2 separate regions of the Homo sapiens genome follow, and region 2 is linked to region 1. The links come from fine-mapping of genetic effects on gene expression. A gene starts in region 1. The other region holds a variant in brackets. All regions are shown on one strand. Distances are between the middles of the regions.

The links. PIP is the estimated chance that this variant, and not a neighbour inherited with it, causes the effect.
Region 2: its variant is fine-mapped to the expression of SERPINH1 in whole blood (TOPMed, PIP 0.97).

Annotation. Positions count from the first base shown.
Region 1 is chr11:75,557,235-75,565,556 of GRCh38, reverse strand. It overlaps SERPINH1 (serpin family H member 1), which reads right to left and starts at 3,304. Exons shown (of 5, transcript NM_001235.5): 1 at 3,238-3,304. RefSeq lists enhancers at 2,005-2,543, 2,544-3,084, 3,085-3,624, 6,206-6,747, silencers at 3,249-3,298, 3,309-3,568 and cis regulatory regions at 5,760-6,610, 7,083-7,313.
Region 2 is chr11:75,582,343-75,590,664 of GRCh38, reverse strand. MAP6 (microtubule associated protein 6) reads left to right here. Exons shown (of 4, transcript NM_033063.2): 4 at 2,481-3,747. The coding sequence ends at 3,606. It overlaps MAP6-AS1 (MAP6 antisense RNA 1), which reads right to left and starts at 7,469. Exons shown (of 2, transcript NR_145823.1): 1 at 7,384-7,469. RefSeq lists an enhancer at 5,856-6,435 and silencers at 7,182-7,331, 7,342-7,451. The variant C/T (reference allele first, on the strand shown) is at 4,472.

The DNA.
Region 1 (8,322 bases):
CCATGGCTTCTGTCTGGGCAGGAACTTGGAATGCCCATCTACCCACAGTGCTCCCAGTGCGGATGGGAAATCCCCAGGACAAAAGCTCCTGGGGGACCAACTCCTTTGAAGACTCGGTGGGGCTGGGGAGGAGGCTTCCTGACATAGCACAAGGACAGGATACTAGGGAAAAGGGTGAGTCACACATAGCTCAATAGAGCAGTGACCCCCTTCCCCATCACCAGCAGCTGGCCAGATGTGCACTCAGCCTTCAAAGAAGCTGGAGCCACATCAGATTCCATTCTGCCCTCCAATCTGACAGCCACTGCCACACAGGCCATCTGCTCCACGGCTTCAGGGTTGCCCTCAGGCCTCCTCCCCAAGCCCCAGCAGTAGCAGTGGCCCCAAGGACAAGCCCCAGTTCCCTCTCTGGGGCCTCCAATTTGGACAGTCTCTGTTCCTGGGATACTTCCACACTCCCTCTCTCCCTTCGGGCCATTATCCTCCTCTACATCATGCAACAGCACAGGAGAGATGACAGGGCAAAGGGAAGGATAGAAGGAATCCTGGTGGAGGCTGCGATCCCACTGCTCTGGTAGATCCCAACTTGTAGTCATCCTTGAAGAAGACCGAACATTTGAAATCCTGGTGGAAGACCCTCAGGACTCTGGCTGCCTGGGGACCACTGTATTTCTGGGAAGATTCTACTGCTGCCATCCCAAAAACCTGGACAGGCTCCCCATCTCCCGGGACTGCCTCCCTCCTCGGAGCCTTGAAGGTGCAGTATAAGATAAGCAAAGGGTCCAAGGGGAGGGAGGTGGGGAGAGGAGGGAAGGCCCAGAGATCTAAAAATGTCTGGAAGGAGCGGGGAGATCTGAGTCTCACCCTAAAATGAAGGGGATATCTTGGGGCCTAGAATAAACCCCAAGACACCTCCCTCCCAGCTCTGGCTCCTTCCCTGCCAGAACTGGAGCCTCAAAGGCAGAGCAACCATATAATTTATTGCACAAACAAGGACACTTATAAGAGTAAAATGGGCACTACTAATTATTATGCCAGGACAATAGGCATATGGCCACCCTACTCAAAAGCCACCTCTGATCCAGACCAGTGATGCTGGAGCTCAGACCACAGCAGAGGCCAACAGCCTTCCTTCCCTGAGGAGGCAGCTGAAGAGCCCACTCCCAGCCATGCCACGTGGCAGGTACCATCTTGACAGCCCCCACCCCCACCAGCCAGAACCTCAAAGGACTGGGAGGGGCTTCTCAAGCAAGCTCCAAATAACTGGTTTGGGATTCCTCAGGCAGCCCGCTAGGCCCGCAGCAGCTTAGCGCCTGCTCCTGGTGGTGACGTGGCAGGCAGGAGGCTGAACTATCTCCACCGGCCGGCAGAGGGGGGCTTCCAGCCTGGGAAGCAGGCCTGACTCAGGTCCCAGGGGGTGCCACATATTTGCCAGGGGACTCCAGGAGCCTTCTTGGCCTTAGTTCCCTTCCCATCCGCACATGAATCTCTGAAGGGAAATGCGCTACTGGGGAGAAGGGCAGCCCCACTGAACCCAGCAGCAGGAATGGGGGAAGGCAAGTTACTGCAAGCAGGCCAGCCTCCCACAGCCCAGCCCATCTTGCCACAGAGAAATGCCAGCCCTCAGGCCAAGGTTAGCTGAGTTACAGTCCCACAAAGAAAATACAAGATCACCTAGCCAGGGCTGTGCCCACAGCTAGCTGGACTGAGCAGGGTCTGGAAGGGAAGGGGAGGAGATGATGGGACCCCACCAGAGGGTCCCAAACACTTGAGAGGTCTAAAGTACCTGGAAACTGCCTCAGAGGGAGGTCAATGCCTGCCTTTTTCATTCTGAAAGAAAACAGAAGAGTGAAGAGGGCGGGAGCCGGCAAAGGAGAGATGGTGAGGAGGCCCCTGGCGCAGAGGGCACAACCAGTCCCCAATCTACAGGGACCTTGGAGATCGACCACCTCACTGTAAAATGGGAGAAACAAGGCCAGGGCAGGGGGTCACCCCAGGTCCCTCGGGATAAACAGGGGTCTGCCTTCCCAGCACAGGGGTCCTTCCTCACAGAAGCACAGAGCCCCTCCTGAGGGCTGCATGCGGTGTCCTGTTACACAGCCAGTACAAAAAAAAAATCTCTGCTGGGAGTCCCGGTGACAGAGGAGACAAAGGAGAGGACGGGAAGGGGGGATGGGTACATGAACCATCTGAAGACAGGAGGGTGTGGCCCCGGCCGGAATTCCGGAGAACCAAAGCCCCCTCATTTTCCTCAGGCCTCCATCCGGGCCGTACAGCCCAGAGGGACCAGCGGGAAACAAGGAAGAGGAGGGGCTGAGACTCTGGGCCAGTCTGGAAGTGCATTCATTCTCCTTCCTGCTCTTCAGCCACCTCAGGAATGTCTCTAAGCTGGGGGGCAGGGAACCCCAGCCTCTGGAAGTTAGACCCTGCAGTTTAAACCCTGCAGTTACTCCAAGAACCCTGTGGCAGTGGACAGAAGGAAAGACTCAAATCCTTCTAGTCAGCCCCTTAATCCCCAGAGCAGAGCAGACCCTGCTGACCCCCACTCTCTTTTTTCGGAGTGGTAGGGAGCCTCGCTGGCCAAGTCTTTCCTTTGGCTGCCATCATCTAGGCTGCAAGCTGCTGATCAGAAATTGAGCCACTGTCGCCCACTTCTACCAGAGCACACGGACCCCAGGAGTCGAGACGATTTCACCTCCTTTCCCACCACCGGAAGCTCAAATTCCCTCAGCAAGCCTGTGAGGAGGCTGGGCCACCAATCACCGCTGCCCCTGAGCCTCAACCCCAGAACGGAAGTGACCTGGAACTGCGAGGCCGGCCTATCCTCCCTACCCTTGCGGGAAGAGGCACCAGACCCATCTCCTTCCTCCTCTGTTTCTTTCCGCAGAGGCTCTGCTCTCTGCCCCCAGCCCCCTTTACACAGCACCTAGTCTCGTATCTGCCACCACCACCTTTTAGGGGTCCCTGCACTTTTTCCCAGTCCTCCGAGTGCACGGACTCCCAACCCGGCTCCGATCTCCGCCCTAGCCCTCAGCTGGCACCATCACTGGCTAGCCCTGGGCTCTCGATTCCAAACCCTCCAGCGGCCCCCAAAGTGCCGAGGACTCCAATTTGTAGGCTCTGGCTCGGCACCCAACGCTTCGCAGGGTCCCCTCGCCCCTCTTACTCCCTCGCGCACCCCCAGATTGCTCGGCGCTCCCCCGGGCCGCACGCACGCAGGCGTCTCCCGCCCCTCACCTGGGTCGGGCTGGGCTAGCGCCGGGACGTGACTCTCGCTCTCGAGCCGCGACACGATTCTACTCTTAGCCCGCTCCCCTGCTCCCGGGATCTATATATGGCAGTCCCCACCCCCTCCTGCCCGTCCCGAGAAACTTCTGGAAAGTTGGAAACGCTTCCGGAGGGCGCCCCAGCTCCGCCAAAAAAAGCCAAAGACCTCCCTCAAAACCTCCCCGGCCCCCGGCCCCTCCCTCTGCCGGCGCCTCCCGGCCCCTGGGTCCTACTGCCTCCCTCGGCGGCCCGGGCTGCGGGGCGCCGGGAGTCCCCACGGGGATCAGCGTGTCCTTCAGAGTGCGAGCTTCCTCCCACCCCCAGGCTCTCTGCATAAGCTAGCCCACTCCGAATCGCACGTCCTTTCAGGCGCCCCTTTCCCCGCAGGGGCTCTGCCCCAAGCAGAGCCATCTCCCCTTCTCCCCGCTCTCCCCCATTTTCAAGCTGAAACAATTGAGTCCTGTGCACCCCCTCCCTCTCAGGGGAGACGTTCAGGCTTCTGAAGGCAGTGCCCTTCTCCATACTTGTACATTCAAAAAACCTCAACCTCAGCGATGGCCAGAGGGAGAGGGAGCAGACCAGACCCGGTACCTGCCCGGCACCCGGAAAGTTCAAGTCGTGGAGTAATAGAGGCAGAGATGCCTGGGGAACTTCAGGTGGTCTGGCTGGGCTTGGAGGAGTGCACAGGAAGGAAAACCTGGCTCTCCACTGAGCAAGGTGCTGTGTGACCCTAAGCAGGTTACTTTCCCTTTCTGGGCCTCTGTTCCCTTGGCTGTGAAATGTGGTTCTAAGGCATCCCTTGCTTTTTTTCCCCCCTCTCTCCCTTCCTCAATCCTTGTCACCCCTGGCCCCCTCCCTATTGCATCCCCTCCCTCTTTGGGTCCCCTCCCACAGGCCTCAGGTCTCACTGTCAATTCCTACCCCACCCTCGCAAACTGATAGCTCCTTGACCTCCAAGTTAAGCTAGGGTATTCATTACTGTTCTAGGTGCTGAGGACACAGCTGAGAGCTGAACAAAGTCCTTGCCCTGTGCGATGTCCATCTGTGGGGTATGTACCTGTTAGTAGGGAATTCAGTGATTCAGTGAGGCAGATTATTTAGGAAACCCTAAATAATCTGGGCGACAGTGGCTCAATTTCTGATCAGCCGAGGCTCCCTACCCTCCGAAAAGTCCTCTTTAGTAGTTTAATGATAGCTATTGGATGGACGCAGTATGGAGAGGAAGGGACAGGGTAGGGACTCTTCATTCATTCAGTCATGAATGAATGCATTGAGTATCTTCTTTCTTCTAGGTGCTTGCCTGGATCCTGGGGAGCAAAAAAATCCCAGTACCCAGCAAATGAGTCAATCACCTGGGTCCCTGCCCTCTGTTAGTGGTTGTGGGGAAGCCTGGTGGTGGTGACAAACCTCTCTGTCTGGGTAGGCTTCTGCAGCTCAGAGTCTTTTGAGTACAAGGACTGTGGGAAATCTCAGATCCCAAAAGCTTCAGACTCTGTGATTCAGGGTCAAGGAATCAGAGATTACTTCCACTCAAAGCCCCCAAGGAGTCTTTGAATCCAGCTAAGGAATCTTAACATGTTAAAATCTCAGAGTCGAAGGATTCTGGAATAAATGTATTAAAGACTCTGAGCTGCAAGGCATCTCAGAGGTCAGGGGTTCCTGTCTGCAGCCCCAGGCAGAAGCCCTCTTCTCAGTATCCCAAAAAGGCAAGCACCGAGGCACCTCTAAGAAGAGAGAGCTTACCTCCTTCAGAGGCAGCCCCGCATTCTTTTTTAGGACAGGTCTGATTATTAACAAAAGCTTCCAGCCTTGGCATGGTGTCCATCTCTTTGGGGTGGCTGTCGTGGTTCTCATGTGCTTCCTCCTGCCTCAACTGTATATTGCTTTTAAAGATAAATTCTAGGCTGGGCGCGGTGGCTCATGCCTGTAATCCCAGCACTTTGGAAGGCCGAGGTGGGTGGATCACCTGAGGTCAGCAGTTCAAGATCAGCGTGGCCAAAATGGTGAAACCCCATCTCTAATAAAAATATGAAAATTAGCCAGCTGTGGTGTCATGTGCCTGTAATCCCAGCTACTCAGGAGGCTGAGGCGGGAGAATCTCTTGAACCTGGGAGGTGGAGTTTGCAGTGAGCCGAGATCATGCCACTGCACTCCAGCATGGGTGACAGAGCGAGACTCCATCTCAAAAAAAAAAGATAAATTCTTGTTTATCCAAGGAGACCTCCCGGGTCCCAGGCCAGACCCCACTCTCTACTCCCACCCCCACATTGGCCCTCAGGCTTCCTTGTGACTTGGTCAGTGAGCTGAGGGCAGGGCAGAGCAGAAACAAAGAGTGCCCATCAATGCTGGCAAAACAGAGAGGGTCGCCTGGGTTTTCAGCAGGTTCAGATGTCACAATCCCAGTGAGACTCCCTTCCTCTACTCTCTTACATCTCTTAGCTCTTTTAGGCTTCACCAACACCTGAGGGGGAGACTGAGAGTGCTGTGACTGTCCCATTTTGAGGGATAAACCAAAGCTCATGCTGTTAAATAGACCCAGTATCATGAGTGGTCACTGAAGAGAGGACCTGCCCTTACAGACAGCAAAGCTGAGGCCTAAGGAGGGCTGGGTCTGAAGGCCCAACCCCCATCCGACCCCCACTAATCTCACACCGGGTCAGAAGCCTCCTCTGTGACCTATCCCACTGCTGCATTATCTCTGTTATCACCCTGTATTGTCAGTGAACCATCACTGGAGACTTTGGAAGGGCAGGGCCTTTTCCTTGTCACTGTGAGTCCCCAGCTCCAGCAAGGGGACAGTATGGAAGAGGCACTGGGTAAGCATGGCTGGCCAGGGGATGAGAAGTGGCTGCCTGAGGCTGCTGTGCCCCTAGCACAGCCTCCCTGAAGAAGGGAAAGCAACGGCTCCTTTAAATTTCCAAGATCAGCAAAAAAAAAAAAAGTCAAGAGCCTTTGCCACAATATTCTTAGCTCTGAGCCCAGCCCAGACTGACTGTGGCCCTTCCCCCACATTCCAGGCAGAGCTTTCCGGAAAAAGCACTCTTTTAGGGGGTGGGGGAGAAGAGTCTGATAAGCAGAGAAACTCTCAAGCATTTTGTCTCTGGACTCCTCCAGTGCCTCGCTTCACTGAAGGAAGTGGTCCTGGTGCCTGGCACGTGGAGGCTGGCTGGAAATCCTCTAGATCCCTAGGTCCCGAGAGGTGTGGACAGCAGAAAGTAGAAAACCATCAAGTCCAACTGCATCCACACTATACAGAGAGGACAACGGAAGCCCAGAGAGGGCAGGAATTTACCCAAGGTCACACAGCATATCAGAGGTGGGGCTGGGCTGGAGCCTAAGCCCTGGACTCCCAGCCCTCTTTCTCCCACAGTACCCTCTAATGACCCAGGGGGGTATGTAGGCCCAGTTCTGCCAGGTGCTGTGGAAACAGCTTTCTTTGGCCCCAGTGGCTAGATTCACTCAGTCTTCACCCCATAGAATCCTAGGACAAAAACTTGCATGTCATTTAAGTGTGCAACACATTCACATTTATTATCATATTTATTCCTTTCAGGTAAGGAAGAATGTTCCAATTTTCAGCATGAAGAAACTGAGGATCAGGGAGACTAAGCAACAGGGTTAAGGGCACACAACAAGCCAGAGTCAGAGCTGGGTTTTGAATCAGGTCTGTTTATGCCATATCCACGGGAAGGCAGGGAGTGGACGAGAAGGAAGTGACATTTATGGGCCATTTTGCCGCTGCCAGGCCTGTGCTGGGCACCGTCATTAGTGTCTCACTTTTAATTATAGAACGTTAATCGGAAGGAAGTTTAATCCCCTTCTTTTTACATTGGTATAAAATTGGAGCCCAGAAAGCTCCGACAGCCAGTCCAGGGTCGGCCCCCTCCCTCAGGGAGCCAGGGCTGCTATAGGCAGCTCTTCTTTGAGATGCTGTCCAGGAGCCAAGAATGTGCTCTCAGCCCAAGGCATGAGTCAGGAAAACACGATTTCTGTAATCTTGGATTCTCTCTCTTGGAGCGTGGGGCCTTCCATCCAAAAAGGGCTGTCCTGCGTGCTGCCACGTTGGAGGGTGGGCAGCCGGTCCATGTGGGGGTGGGTGGGCACATGATTCCTCCCCTCCTCCTCCCAGAGCAGGCCCGCCCCTACCCGTCTGCAATCCTGGTGCTGAGCGAAGCCACATAGGAACTCCAGCGCCTTCACCCACATGCCTGGCACAATACCCAGGAGACACAAGCCCACTGACTCGCTATATACACAGGCGTATGTGCACCCACATACATGGTGCACACACGGCACTTGAGCAGCCCCTTCACACAATCCATGTACACACATGTCTGTGTAACTCCAGTAACCCAAATGCACCCCACCCCCCTACACAAGTTTTTGTTGGGTATTGACATATACACAGGATCAGGTTCCCCGCCCCCTCTCCCAGCCTCCCTCTCTCAGGCTTCCTCTGGCAACCCATGGAACCAGCTCCAGTGCCTGCAAGACCAGGCCTGAAGGGCTGGTGGGATGGAGGATGTGTGTTAACTACAGCCCTGCCTTTCCCTTCCCGTCTTGTTCTCCTCTCCCTTAGGTGCTGCTGAGCCTGTAATAACAGTGATGCCCAGGTGGGCTACAGGGCTGTCCTCCCTTGTCTTAGCATCCCTGACACTCAGAAAAGGGACTCCTGAGCTCTGACCACCCCCTACACCCTGCCAAACCACCTCTAATCTGCTTCAGCCCAGTTCAGCCCTGCTGTGCTATGGAGTGTGAAATGCCCTCACTTGGGGGTTAGGAGACCTGGGATCCTGCCCCAGGTCTGCCACTTCTTGGCTATGTACCCATGATTTAAATTACCCCTCTGTAAAATAGGACTGATAGTCTGCAGGATGATGAGACACACAGATAAAATAATGAATAGCAGAGGACTTTGTGAACACTAAGTGATGTTAGGCTCTCCACTCCACACCTCTGCTCACATCTTCACCAACTGGTCAAATCTTACACAACCCGTAGACGCCACTCTGACCATTCCTTCCCTGTCCTCTGACCATTCCTGCTCTGTCCTCT
Region 2 (8,322 bases), 25 kb before region 1:
TTGATTTAATTCATCATTTTAATCTTAATTATAACCTTCCCATGATTAAAGATACCCACTAAAGAAAAAAGTTTTCTAACCTAAGCAATATGGGGTTATGTATCCATGCAAAGTTGAGGCTAGCTCACAACTGGCTCATTAAACAGAAGAGCCCATTAAACAGAAATTTGGTAGGTGGCACAGGAGCCAATGCTGTAGATATCCAAGGAAATGTACTTCCTGGCCCAGGCTGCAGGGCTGGCCTTCTTTGTGACCTCCAGGCCAGCAGGAGACTCCAGGCCCATGTCCTACCCTTGGGATAGGTTCTGCAGCCCAAGCCCCTGAGATGGAGTTAAGCTCCCTTTTTTTTCTTTTGTCCCTTCTCAGCTTCCTCACCCTGTTGGGAGGACACCACCCAGGTCGCTTCACAATCTAAGAGAATACACCTAATCAATTTCCTGCTTGGCTCTGTTCTGAATTCGGTTTTTCTTTTTTCCTCTCTGACCAGCCACCAGTGACTGGAGGTATTTTAATGCCATTTTTGGATTCCACATGCTTCTCACAGCCTTGCCTGGCTCTCTTCTCAAACACTAAGGTCCTACTGATAGCAGCCAACTGTGTCTATCTGGCCAGAGCAGCTGTGTTCCATATCATGCTGAGCCAGAGAGCTGCCCTGGCCCCTTCCACTGTGATGCTCAGGGACAGCCAGGGGAACTAGATGGAGAGGTTGCCTGTGCTGTGTGGACTCTGCTGAGAAATACCAGTCCCTGGGTGGCTCAGGATGCTAAATACAGTAAAAAGCTTCTGCATCAGGACAACACAGAAGAATAAAAGCAGTCCAAATACACATAATTTTACTTCTAAGTAAACAGAAAAACAACCATAATACTACCCAATAATACCATAGTACAAGGTGCTCTAGGTGCTGACCTCTAATCATTATAGATTTCTGAGTAAATATCATTATACCCAATAAATAGAGTAATAGTAATAGTCACCTTGCATTGAGCACCTACTATGTGCCAGGCACACTAAGGGAAAGAGCACAGGATCCAGGAGCGGAAGGATCCAGATGCTAGTCCGTGGGGGTCCCCTCACTTTCCCCATCACTTGTCCTCTCATGACCTCATTTTCTTCATCAGACAAGTAAGGGTAAGAAAATCCTTCCTGTGTGCTTCACAGGGCTGCTCTGTTGCTGAAATGAGCTATAAAAGGGAGCCATTCGGAAAGCTGGATGTGTTGTAGGCGTGCAAGGGCCTGTGATGCTTGCTGAGCAATGCCACTCTCTCGACTTCCAACATGGCCTGCAAGGAAGGAGTGTGCACTCTAAACCAGAGGGCTCCAGGCTGGCCGGGTCTAAGTGTGGCAATGCTTGCCTTTGAGTGTTAGTGTTGTCACACGCTCTCCACAGTGTGGGTGGGCCAGGGGATGAGGCAGACGGCCACAGTGAGGCGAGGGAACAGTGCCTGAGGATTCTGATGAAAGACTGGGACTCTTGGCTATAGGGAAATAAGCCCAAGAGCCTGGAAGTTGGTGAGGGCAAAGGTCTCAGGAGAGCAGAGAGAGCCAGAAGTGGGAATGGAGTTAGGGGATCAGGGCCTCATCCCTACCTGAAAGCGGAGTCCCATTGAGTCACCTAGCAAAGGTTGGGGGTAGTGGGAGTGGTGCATGCAATCACAGGGCGCACTGTCTATGGAGAATTTAAAGCAATAAAGCTAAAAGCTGCCTGTAGTCCAGCTATTCAGGAGGCTGAGGTGGGAGGATCACTTGAGGTCAGGAGCTGGAGAACAGCCTAGGTGACATAGTGAGGCCCCGTCTCTACAAAAACAAATAACAAAAAACTAATAGCTGGCCTGCTTTTTATTATCACTATATGCTGCTCATTCTATACAATGTCAGTGATAAAATACTTTTCCCCTTGCAGGAGAGGGAGAGAGGGGCATTCCCACTGCTTCCTTTCCTGGTATGCCATGGACCCCTTGCCCCTTCTTGCAGCCAGCACTTAACAAGGGGGTCAGGGAGTCAGGGAGGCAAAAGAACTTTGAAGGCCCTGAGAACAAGAAAAGAGCACCCTGGCCTGTGGGGGCATCTGGTGGGCAGCTGAGATGGGGCTCCCAGGATGGGCCCAACGATCCTAGAAGAAAAAGTAGGGACCTGGATGGAATGTGGGGTGGACGGGCTGCTGGGATGCCTACTGGATGACTCCGAGTCCAGCTACAGTACTGCCATTGTCACCAGCGTGCCACCCCCTGTGCCACGTGCAGGTTATAATCAATTGGCAAGCACATTGAATGACTGATTCCTGAGCCTTCACCTCACCCCCCTCCCTCACCCCCGCCCACATTCTGTACTAAGAACACAGAAATCATATTCTCCTGGCTCTCCAGCAAGAGCTGCCCGGCCCAGGCTCCACTAGGCCAAGACTTATTAGGCAATCTGTACTCTGCCCTGTCCCTGCCTGAGCTCTACTCTCACAGTGATCACCTCTCTCTCCTTTGCAGGAGCCTGGCTCAACCCGTCAGTGATTCAAGTAAGACTCAAGGTCCTGTAGCCACAGAGCCAGACAAGGATCAAGGTTCTGTGGTCCCAGGCCTTCTGAAAGGTCAAGGTCCTATGGTGCAAGAGCCTCTGAAGAAGCAAGGTTCTGTGGTCCCAGGGCCTCCAAAGGATCTAGGTCCCATGATCCCATTACCAGTCAAGGATCAAGATCACACGGTCCCTGAGCCTTTAAAGAATGAAAGCCCTGTTATCTCAGCACCAGTCAAGGACCAAGGTCCCTCGGTCCCAGTTCCTCCAAAGAATCAAAGTCCTATGGTTCCAGCAAAAGTTAAGGATCAAGGCTCTGTGGTACCAGAGTCTCTAAAGGATCAAGGTCCTAGGATTCCTGAGCCTGTGAAGAATCAAGCTCCTATGGTCCCAGCACCTGTCAAGGATGAAGGTCCCATGGTCTCAGCATCTGTCAAGGATCAAGGTCCCATGGTCTCAGCACCTGTCAAGGATCAAGGTCCCATAGTCCCAGCACCTGTCAAGGGTGAAGGTCCCATAGTCCCAGCACCTGTCAAGGATGAAGGTCCCATGGTCTCAGCACCTATCAAGGATCAAGATCCCATGGTCCCAGAGCATCCGAAGGATGAAAGTGCCATGGCCACAGCACCCATAAAGAATCAAGGTTCCATGGTCTCTGAGCCTGTAAAGAATCAAGGTTTAGTGGTCTCAGGGCCAGTCAAGGATCAAGATGTTGTAGTCCCAGAGCATGCAAAGGTTCACGATTCTGCAGTTGTGGCACCTGTAAAGAATCAAGGTCCTGTGGTCCCCGAGTCCGTGAAGAATCAAGACCCCATTCTCCCAGTACTAGTTAAGGATCAAGGCCCCACAGTCCTACAGCCTCCAAAGAATCAAGGTCGTATAGTCCCTGAACCTCTGAAGAATCAAGTTCCTATAGTCCCAGTGCCTCTGAAGGATCAAGATCCTCTGGTGCCAGTACCAGCAAAGGACCAAGGTCCTGCAGTCCCTGAACCTCTGAAGACTCAAGGTCCCAGGGACCCTCAGCTACCTACTGTCTCACCTCTACCCCGAGTCATGATCCCAACTGCCCCCCATACGGAATACATTGAGAGCTCCCCTTGACACTCACCCCTTGACACACCAATGAAGGAGCTGACAGTGAGAGTGCTCCCCTCCCAGGGGCAGTGAAGACACATATTTAATCTGCATGAAACATGTACAGTAGTCTTGCTGGAATCTAATAAAAATGGTCCCTCTGGCTCAGCAATGTTTCTCTCTGTCTCTGTTGGGCAGGGGTGCATACATGTGTATAGGTGGGCCTGTCAGGCTCTGCATTCACCCGTCTGGACCAGAGGGGTCTGAGAAGCACCAGTTCCTGTGAGTTGTCAGCATGAGATGGGAGTGGGTAGGCGATGCTAGATGGAAACAGGACCCCATCACGGAGGTGGGCAGGATAAGGCAAGGGTCAGATACCATGACAGCCTCACAAGAGGTGCCAAATCCCAGCAGGCTGAGCCCTGGGTAGCTGAGTTGAAGCCTGCAGATGAAACAGGAGCAGGGACCCACCTGGCACAGGGGAATTCTGGATGACAGTTGTTTGCCAAGAGCTCAGCCTTAAAGCTCATCCAGGGGTCAAACTTCTTGAGGAAACCAGGCTCTGATCATAAGTCTCAGGACACTGTATAACCTAACACCTGCTAATCCTCATTCAATATCCATGACAGCTCAACTGAGAGCTTCTAAAGAATATACCTAGAGCCAGGCACAGTGGCTCACGCCTGTAATCCCAGCACTTCGGGAGGCTTAGGTGGGTGGATCACCTGAGGTCAGGAGTTCGAGACCAGCCTGGCCAACATGGTAAAAACCCTGTCTCTACTAAAAATAAAAAAATTAGCTGGGTGCGGTGGCAGGCACCTGTAAACCCAGCTACTCAGGAGGCTGAGGCAGGAGAATCACTTGAACCTGGGAGGCAGAGGTTGCAATGAGC[C/T]GAGATTGTGCCACTGCACTCTAGCCTGGCTCCAGCCTGGGCGACAGAGCGAGACTCGGTCTCAAAAAAAAAAAGCGTGTGTATGTGTATGTATGTATGTGTGTGTGTATATATATATATACACGTATATATATATATACACGTATATATATATATATATATATATATACGTGTATATATATATGTGTGTGTGTGTGTATGTATATCTGAAGTCCCCATTCATTTCTCCGTGCAGCAAGCTTGTCCTTAGCATGCACTTTGTGCCAGGCTCAGTGCTGAGCACTGGGGTCACTATGGGAAAGAATATTATGACAATAAAACATGGTATGGGATGAGGCCCTAGGACAAGTCAAGACCTGGCTTTGAGAGGCCAGTGAAGAGAGAACACCTGGCAAGAGCAGCCAGGAAGGCTTTCCAGAGAAAGTGGCTGTGGAGTTCTGATGGAGTCTAGGCAGTCCAGACAGGGCAGACAGGGCGGCATGGGTGTGGCTGAGGACCGGGTAACGCTCCCTCTGAAAGTCCTTGAATGAAAGGAATCTGGTTTGCATGAGGACTTGACCAAGGGTATGGCAGGTCTCTGGGGTGGAAAACTAGGACGAGGCAGGGGTGATCCATTTTCTGAATTCCAGGAAATCAGGGAGGGAGTGGGGGTGCGTCCTGTGGGCTGTGATTGTGGGGCTGGCAGGCCGAGGAACAGCCACAGCCAGGCTGTGGGGAGGACGGCTGGGAGCTGCCAGCGGGCCTGGGGCTCAGCCTCAGTCAAAGATGGGTCCGGCCGGGATGCCACTGGCAGGGGCCGCAAGGCCATATTACAGCCTCCCTTTCAAAGCCCAGAGCCCCCAAGAAGCTAGGGTGGAGGCTCCACCAGTTGCCCCCACCAAAGCTGGCTCCCAAGGAATACTGCTATCCCTTTCAAAGGAGCTCAGCTCAGTTCTTACAGGAAAATCATCAGAGGAAATACAGTATGGAGGACACCCAAATAGTCTAGTTTTCTAAGCAAGCCTTCCCCATCCAACTGGCCCCAAGCCTGCCTCCTCACCCCGTTCCCAACAGCACTAGGGTTTTGTCTATACACACACAAACACACACACACACACACACAGAGAAAGAGAGAGAGAGACGTTTCTTCACAGTGAGGTTGGCTTTTTTTGGCCCAACACAAAAGTAGCCCTCAGAGCTTGCTGCCATATGAGCTCCAATAGTCAGAAACCTGAAGATAAGACAAGGCCACATTGAGGCTAAAGAATTGCGTGTGAAGGTCGGGCTCGATGGCTCACGGCTGTAATCCCAGGACTTTGGGAGGCCGAGGTGGGTGGATTATTTGAGGTCAGGAGTTCAAGAGCAGCCTGACCAACATGGTGAAACCCTGTCTCTACTAAATATACCAAAATTAGCTGGGTGTAGTGGCAGGCACCTGTAATCCCAGCTACTTGGGAGGCTAAGGCACGAGAATCGCTTGAACCTGGGAGGCAGAGATTGCAGTGAGCTGAGATCTAGCCACTGCACTCCAGCCCGGGCGATAGAGCGAGACTCTGTCTCAAAAAAAAAAATCGCATGTGGACACCTTCCTCCTCCTCCCAGTCCTTCCTCTGACCCACACACCAGGTCCCATGACACACACGTTTCCACAGGCCAAGCGAACCGTGGCGCCATCTCTGAGAAGCAGAACAAGGTTTCCCTGAGGGCCTCCGAGACACCCGGGGGCAGATGTCCAGGCCACTGGCTACCAAGGCTTGACCTCTGAAGAGACGTCTGGAAACAGGGCCTGGTAGTCAGCTGCCCTGGGGCTGGGGGGAGGATGGTCACAAGCCCCACATGAAGGACGCTGCGCTCCCTCAGAGAGTGTCAGAATGGAAAGAGATGTGGGTCCTGTTCCAAGCGTTGCGGACTTAAGAGGTCAGAGAGAATCGCCCAGAAAAAGTTCAGAGGGGCTGGCCCGGAGCTGTAAGGAGGAACCAGGGAACTGTGGTGCCCGGAGTGATTCAATCAGGAGACAGTGAGGCCGGGTCGAAAGCTGGGAGGGCCGGCGCAGATGAGGACTGAGGGGTGGCCGCTAGATCTGGCAGTTTCTGCTATGAGCCCAGAGCCAGCCCCTCAACATCTTCATTTGCAAGCCGGTCCTGACGCACAGAGCAGCGCCTCTGAGCTGCAGGCCTTCCCAGCTCAGTCCAGTCCAGCCCTCCACTACCCAGAAAGAAGGCCCAGTGCGGGAGGAGGGGCTCTGGGTCCCCATCTTGGGGTGGGGCAGGGAGGGCGGGGGCGCACCCGACTCTCCTGGCCCTTCTTACAAGCAGGCTTCACTCGAGGCCTAGCTCCTCCCTGCGGCAGCCACTTCCCAGTCTCCCGCGGCGTCCCCTTCCCCACCTCTCCCTCCTCCCTCCTCTCCTTCTTCCTCCCAGCTGCGGGAACTCACAAAGCAGGGGCGACCGCAACCCCGCAGTCCGCGGGCTCCCGCGCCCCTGCTGCAGCCGCCCGGGGAGGGGAGAGGACGGCCCCGCGGCGCCGCAGAAAGGGCGCCCCTACGCCGCGAGGGGCAGGGAGTCGGGGGGTCTCTGGAATGGGAGGCTCCCCACCCGGCCCAGAGGCAAAGGCGACCCGCTGAAACTGGATGGGCCGGCGGCGGAACTCCGACCCGAGAGTCCCACTCCGAAGATGCCCAGGCTCGGGAGGGCGTCTCCGCCCACAGAGCCCCGCTACCAGGGCTCTCGGCTCGGAAACAGCAGCCCCCGTCCCCGCGCACTCGCACAGCCCCCCGCCTGCAGGCTCATCTCCGGCCCCGCCCCGGGCTCCGGGCTCCGCCGCCCGTGCAGCCTGGCCCCGCGAGACCTCGGGACGCGGGATCGGGCCGGTGGGAAGGATAGTGCCCTGGCGAGGGTGGGCGAAAGAGGCCCCGGTATCTGCGCTCTGCCTACCCGCTTTGGGCCGCTAGAAGGCCTGGCTGGGAGACCCTTTCCGGGAGCTGGGCCGAGGCCTCTCTGGAGTCCCCGGTGGCTGGTCTGGGGAAAGGCCGCGATGTTAGTCCTCACACAATGGACCCCACCCGTGATACCTGCCGACGCCCCACACGGCCTAGGCACCTTGTGCCATATTGGGGGAGCGGGGAGACGGTCTATGTGGACAAGGGACAGGAGCCAACTCGGACTGGAGCGACACTTTCGGGAGTCTGTGCCGCTGAGTGGATGGATGGTCTAGAGGAAGTGGGTGGGAATGCACTCGGGTTGACCCAGTTCTCAGCCAGAAACCGGGAAATCCTTTTCAGTACCAGTCTCCGACCCTCAGCTTCCAAACTATCAGTAAGACCTGCCTGGCCTTCCTGCTAAATAGCAAATTTGCCCACTTTTCACTATCTCTATGGCCACCCCCTCTTACCTCACCCATCTCACAATTTGTAATTCAGTCTATGCATCACAGCATGGCACTCAGGTGTAAGAAATGCCACGTCTTTATTTTGGTAAATCTAATTAAATAGACTGGGAGCCCCCTTCTCTCGTTGCCACGGTTGACAGGAAATCTGATATTAGTCATTTTCCTGGAGCCTCATCCTGTCTTTGGGGCTTATCACAATTCCAGGAGGTTCAGGCCATCCTGAGAAGAATCACTATGGCTTCCCTGAGCCCAAGCCGGGGGGCTGGCAGCCCCTCTCCCTCTCCCTAGGGCTTGGCTGGGGACCTCCCAAAGCCTGCCCAGGTTGTGGTATTTCTGCCCAGTTTGCCCAGGCATTCCTATAGCTTCCACATCTGAGCCCATCCCTCAGAGGCCCTGCAACCCAGCCCGCAGGCGCGTGGCCCTTTCTGCACACCTTCATTCCCGGAGGGAAGCCACTCCATCCCTCATCCATCAAAGCACCTGCA